2 linked regions of the Homo sapiens genome follow. The protein of the gene in region 2 purifies or fractionates together with the protein of the main gene of each other region. This does not show direct contact. Each region holds a gene or a part of one and is shown on either strand. Other genes may lie near its edges.

Region 1 (3,500 bases), on a different chromosome or scaffold from region 2:
TTCTCATAATTTAGCTCTCACTTGTAAGTGAAAACATATGGTATTTGGTTTTCTATTCTTGGTTTAGTTTGCTAAGGATAACAGCCTCCAGCTCCATCCATGTTCCTGCAAAAGACATGATCTCATTCTTTTTATGGCTGCATAGTATTCCATGGTGTATATGTACCACATTTTATGGCTGCATAGTATCCCATGATGTATATGTACCATATTTTCTTTATCAAATTGCTAATTGATGGGCATTCAGGTTGATTCCATGTCTTTGCTATTGTGAATAGTGCTGCATTGAACATCTGTGTGCATGTGTCTTTACGGTAGAATGATTTACACTCCTCTGAGTATATACTCAGTAATGGTATTGCTAGGTTAAATAGTAGTTCTGCTTTTAGCTCTTTGAGGAATCACCATACTGTCTTCCATAATGGTTGAACTAATTTTCACTCCCACCAACAGTGTATAGGTGTTCCCTTTTCTCCATAACCTTGGCATCATCTGTTATTTTTTGACCTTTTAGTAATAGTCATTCTGACTGGATAGAGATGGTATCTCATTGTGGTTTTGATTTGCATTACTCTAATAATCAGTGATATGGAGCTTTTTTTCATGTGCTTATTGGCTGCATGGATGTCTTCTTTTGAAAAGTGTCTGTTTATGTCATTTGCCCACTTTTTAATGGGGTTGTTTGTTTTTCTCTTGTATATTTATTGAAGTTCCTTATGGATCCTGGATATTAGACCTTTGTCACATGCAGAGTTTTCAAAAATTTTCTCCCATTCTGTAGGTTGTCTTTTTACTCTGTCGATAGTTTCTTTATGCTGTGCAGAAGCTCTTAAGTTTAAATCTCAGTTGTCAATTTTTGCTTTTGTTTCAATTGCTTTTGGTGTCTTTGTAATGAAATCTTGGCCCATTCCTACATCCAGGTTGCTATTGCCTGTGTTGTCCTCCAGGTTTTTTATAGTTTTGGGTTTTATGTTTAAATATTTACTCCATCTTTAGTTGATTTTTGTGTATGGTGTAAAGAAGGGGTCCAGTTTCAATCTTCTGCATATGGCTAGCCAGTTATTCCAGCACCACTTATTGAATAGGGAGTCCTTTCCTTATTGCTTGTTTTTATCAGCTTTGTCAAAAGTCAGATGGTTATAGGTGTGCAGCCTTATTTCTGGGCTCTCTGTTCTGTTCCATTGGTCTATGTGCCTGTTTTTGTACCAGTACCATGCTGTTTTGGTTATGTAGCCCTGTAGTATTGTTTGAAGTAAGGTAGTGTGATGCCTCCAGTTTTGTTTTTTTTGCTTAGGATTGTCTTGGCTATTCAGGCTCTTTTTCATTTCATATGAATTTTAAAATAGTTTTGTCTAGTTCTGTGAAGAATGTCGTTGTTAATTTGATAGGAATAGCATTGAATCTGTAAATTACTTTGAGCAATATGACCATTTAAATGATACTGATTCTTCCTATCCATGAGCATGGGATGTTTTTCCACTTGTTTGTGTCTTCTCTGATTTCTTTATTTGAGTTTTGTAATTCTCGTCATAGAACTCTTTCACCTCCCTGGTTGGCTGTATTCCTAGGTATTTTATTCTTTTTGCGGCAGTTGTGAATAGGATTGCCTTTCTGATTTGACTCTAGGTTTGGCTGTTGTTGGAGTATAGGAATGCTAGTGATTTTTGTACATTGATTTGTATCCTGAAACTTTGCTGAAGATGTTTACCAGCTAAAGGAGCTTTGGGCCGAAACTATGGGGTTTTCTAGATATAGAATCATGTCAATTGCAAACAGGGACAGTTTGGCTTCCTCTCTTTTTATTTGAATGTGCTTTATTTCTTTCTCTTGCCTAATTGCTTCAGCTAGGACTTCCAATACTGTGTTGAATAGAAGTGGTGAGAAAGGGCATCCTTGTCTTGTGCCAATTTTCAAAGGGAATACCTAGTTTATTGAGAGTTTTTTTTAACATAAAGGGGTGTTGAATTTTATTGAAAGCTTTTTCTGTATCTATTCAGGTAATCATGCAGTTTTTGTCTTTAGTTCTGTTTATGTGAAGAATCACATTTATTAATTTGCTTATGTTGTACCAACCTTGCTACCTGGGGTTGAAGAATACTTGATTGAGGTGGATTAGCTTTTTGATGTGCTGCTGGATTCAGTTTGCAAATATTTTGTAATTTTTGCATCACTGTTAATCAAGGATGTTGAACTGAAGTTTTTTTGTTGTTGTGGCTCTGCCAGGTTTTAGTATCAGGATGATGCTGGCCTCATAGAATGAGTTTGGGAGGAGTCCTTCCTCCTCAGTTTTTTGGAATTGTTTCTGTAGGAATGATACCAGCTGTTTGTACATCTGGTAGAATTCAGCTGTGAATCCATCAGGTCCTGGCCTTTTTTTAGTTGGGAGCCTAATTTATTACTGATTCAATTTTGGAGCTCATTATTGGTCTATTCAAGGAATCAATTTCTTTCTGGTTCAGTCTTAGGAGGGTGTATGTGTCCAGGAATTTATCCATCTCTTCTAGGTTTTCTAGTTTGTGTGCATAGAGGTTTCTGTAGTAGTTTCTGTTGGTTATTTTTACTTCTGTGGGGTCAGTGGTAATGATGACACCCTTCATCATTTCTAATTGTGGTTTTTGGGGTTTTCTCTCTATTAGCCTAGCTAGTAGCTTACCTATCTTGTTAAATTTTTTTTTAAAATCCATTCTTGGATTTGTTTATCTTTTGAATGGATTTTCTTGTCTCTGTCTCCTTCATTTCAGCTCTGATTTTGGTTATGTTTTGTCTCCTGCTATCTTTGCAGTTGATTTGTTCTTGCTTCTCTAATTCTTTCCGTTGTGATGTTAGGTTGTTAATTTGAGATCTTTCTGACTTTTTGATGTGGGCATTTAGCGCTATGAATTTCCCTCTTAACACTGCCTTAGCTGTGTCCCAGATATTCTGGTATGTTGTATCTTTGTTTTCATTAGTTTCAAAGAACTTCTTGATTTCTGCCTTTATTTCATGATTTATCTAAAAGTCATTCAGGAGTATGTCATTTAATTTCCGTGTAATTGCATTCTTTTGAGCAAGTTTCTTAGTCTTCTGTTTTTATTGCACTGTGGTTTGAGAGTGTGTTTAATACGGTTTTGGTTCTTTTGCATTTGCTGAGGATAGTTTAATGTTCAATTATGTGATCAATTTTAGAGTATGTGCCATGTGGCAAGGAGAAGAATGTATATTCTGTTGTTTGGGGGTAGAAAGTTCTGTAGAGATCTATCAGATCCATTTGGTTCACTGTTTAGTTTGGGTCCTGAATATCTTTGTTAATTTTCTGCCTCAGTGATCTGTCTAATACTGTCAATGGAGTGTTGAAGTCTTCAACTATTAATGTGGGTGAGTCTGTGTCTCTTTTTAGGTCTCTAAGAACTCGCTTTATGAATCTGGGTCCTCCTGTGTTGGGTGCATATATATTTAGGATAGTTAAGTCTTGTTGAATTGAACCCTTTGCCATTATGTATTGCCCTTTTTTTGTGTTTTTT
Region 2 (2,672 bases):
GAAGCAATAATTGTTCCATCTTGGATTATCGGTTTTGCTCTTTGATTTGGTAAAGTTTTTGTTTTTCTACTCGTGCCAGTTGTATTAAAATGTCACTAGGTTAAAAACAAACACAGATATGTTTATTCATTACTGTATCCCTGTAATAATGCCTGGCATGCAGTAGGTCCCTAATATTTGTTGAATGAATGAATTATAGAATAGAGTGCAAAATTAATTCTAATGTATTTTAAAGTAAAGCATGAGAGTTCAAAGAAATGTTGTATTTGCCATCTACAACTTGGAATAATGTTCCTTGATCCTGCTTTACTTCATGCACTTTTGCCAGCAGAGGTGGATGCCTTAGGGAAAAAGTTGGATAAATGCTGATCTAAGGCAACACGTCTAAATGGTTATGTGAACATTTCCCAGTTGGGGTAAAACTAAGAGGAGTGATAATAACATCTCATCAATTTAAAGGACAAGTTCACTGATCGTACTGTCATACTCCAGAGATACATGTGCCAAGAAGCAAAGAGATGCACTCTTGTATTCCAGAAAGAAGATGATTTGTAAGTGTTCAGTATTTGTGTGGCAGCCCTTTTAGGTGTAATGAAGTGTAACAGAAAAGTAAGTGAACTACTTCACATAGCTCTTAATGTTTGTCTTTCAGAGGACATACGAGTCAGGCAGCAAAAGTTGGAGCCATTGTATGATTGTGTGTCAAAATGAGAGTCACACACTTCAAGAACTGTAGGAACTAATTTTAGAAAAAGACTCTTCAGAACAGATGACACATGAAATGTGAGTTTATGTAAACATGTAAATTTGAGTAGCATTAGTTTGTTTTCTGTTTAGGAACTGTATCAGGGTGACAAAGATGAAAGAATGCTGCCAGAAAAGTATATTGTTAAATTTTCAGGCCTCCATTGGTGAAGTTTCAAGTAACCTTTCACTTAAGTTACTTGTGTCAGAGGATGGATGATGGGGTCATTTAAATTGTTGGACAAAGCCATGAAAGGACTTTTAAAATTTTGTCATAAAAATAGCCAATGATGTTTTTAATTTTACATCTAAAACTAATTTGCATTATCCTGTGTTAGTGACTGAATCTCAACTCAGTCCTCATTTTTTAGTTCAACTTTTGACAACCTTATATTCATTGACACCATGGACAGCACAGTAAAAAAATACACAAATTTCTTTTGCAGTTATTGATTTGGAATGATCACTTTAAAAGAGCCATCAAATACGCCTACATATTGAGCCACTCTTTATCATTAAGGTGAAAAGTTCATTCAATTAAGGTATTTGAGTGCTACTATGCGCCAGCCTTTCTTTGTGATAATGTTAATTTTTTTTTTCCTCCCCTCCATGAAGGGAAGAAAAAAAAATTAATTCGGCCATGAATTTTAATATTCTGGCCAGCACCTTATCCATTTGTAGCCACGCCAACAAATTTATTCTGTGATATACCAAACTTACAAAGTCACTCTGCGATTTCAGTAAGGCCCATTCCCAACATGAGTGCTGCTGTCCACGGTACTGAACCATCAATGCTAAATGGTATTTAGTTGTGGATCTTCATCCTGTCATGCAGCTAAATATTCCAGGAATACTGAACCAAGTGAGGAGAAAGATAGCAGTGGGTTGCTGCAAAGGAGGTGAGGGGAGGGGAGAGATAGCAAGTGAGAAAAAGAGAGACTAGTGGTGATGTTTTTAAGTAATTGAAGTAAAAAAGAGAGAGAAAGAGAGAGAGAAGAGGTTCTACTCAGTCCACCAAAGCTTTTTAATTTCCTTACATAATTAACATGATGAATTTTTAAATAATTGTTATATTTAGTTTTGTTCTTCCACCTTTTGGCTATTTCTACTACATATTTACTTATCATAAAAAATACTTCCTAGACCTTCCTCTTATAGCTATTGCCTATCTCTGCCTTTGCAGCTGTTCTCCTTTAAAGAGTAGTCTCCATTAGTTTTCTTGACTTCTTCATCTCCCTGCATAAAGATGAAGGGTATTTAGCTCTGAAAATCCTTTACTGTTGAATATTTAGATTGTTTTCAATTTTTACATAATGAACAATGCATCATGGGATTATTGGCTGCAAATAAATTGGAAACATAAAAGGTGTTTTAAGTTTAAATTTTTTTAAAAAAACAGGTAAAAATAAAATATTTGCCAAAGACTAAGGGTTGCAAAGCTACCTCATGATACACTCTTATACCAATACTAAAATAAACTTCACAACAACAAAATTAGTGATTGGGAAATTACAGTTTTGATGAACTTGGCATTTCAATCAAAGTCATATTTGCCACCGTTCTCTCAGTAGCTTTAGGCCAATTTCCAAATTGCTTTCGACAAATTAGTTTTATTTGTTTATATTATATTATATATATATAATATACATATATTTAAATTATATTTATAATTCTTTCAGTCAGATTTCCTGGAGAACAATAGTTGTTAGGTGCCTACCAGAAAATAGGACTAGAAAGTCATGTTGGAGCCATATTGTGGAAGTCCAAGGAAGTCGGATGGGAGCAAAGGTCATTTCAATTATATATCAAGCTTATATTCTATGGAAACTAACCCCTTCCTAGCACATATATTATTGAAAAATTATTCACCTGCTATTTTATCAATGTCATTTATAAATTAAAATTTTTCTTATTATAACTATACCTTA

What was found.
Region 1: the proteins of RWDD1 (region 2) and DNAJC1 purify together in Homo sapiens (affinity purification with mass spectrometry, with the first as the bait; one large-scale study listed by BioGRID). This does not show direct contact.

The regions. Positions count from the first base shown.
Region 1 is NC_000010.11:21,885,231-21,888,730, reverse strand, and holds part of DNAJC1 (dnaJ homolog subfamily C member 1 precursor), read left to right. Parts: intron 1-3,500. UniProt on the Homo sapiens protein: May modulate protein synthesis.
Region 2 is NC_000006.12:116,595,504-116,598,175, forward strand, and holds the end of RWDD1 (RWD domain-containing protein 1), read left to right. Parts: 3' UTR 1-2,172; downstream 2,173-2,672. UniProt on the Homo sapiens protein: Protects DRG2 from proteolytic degradation.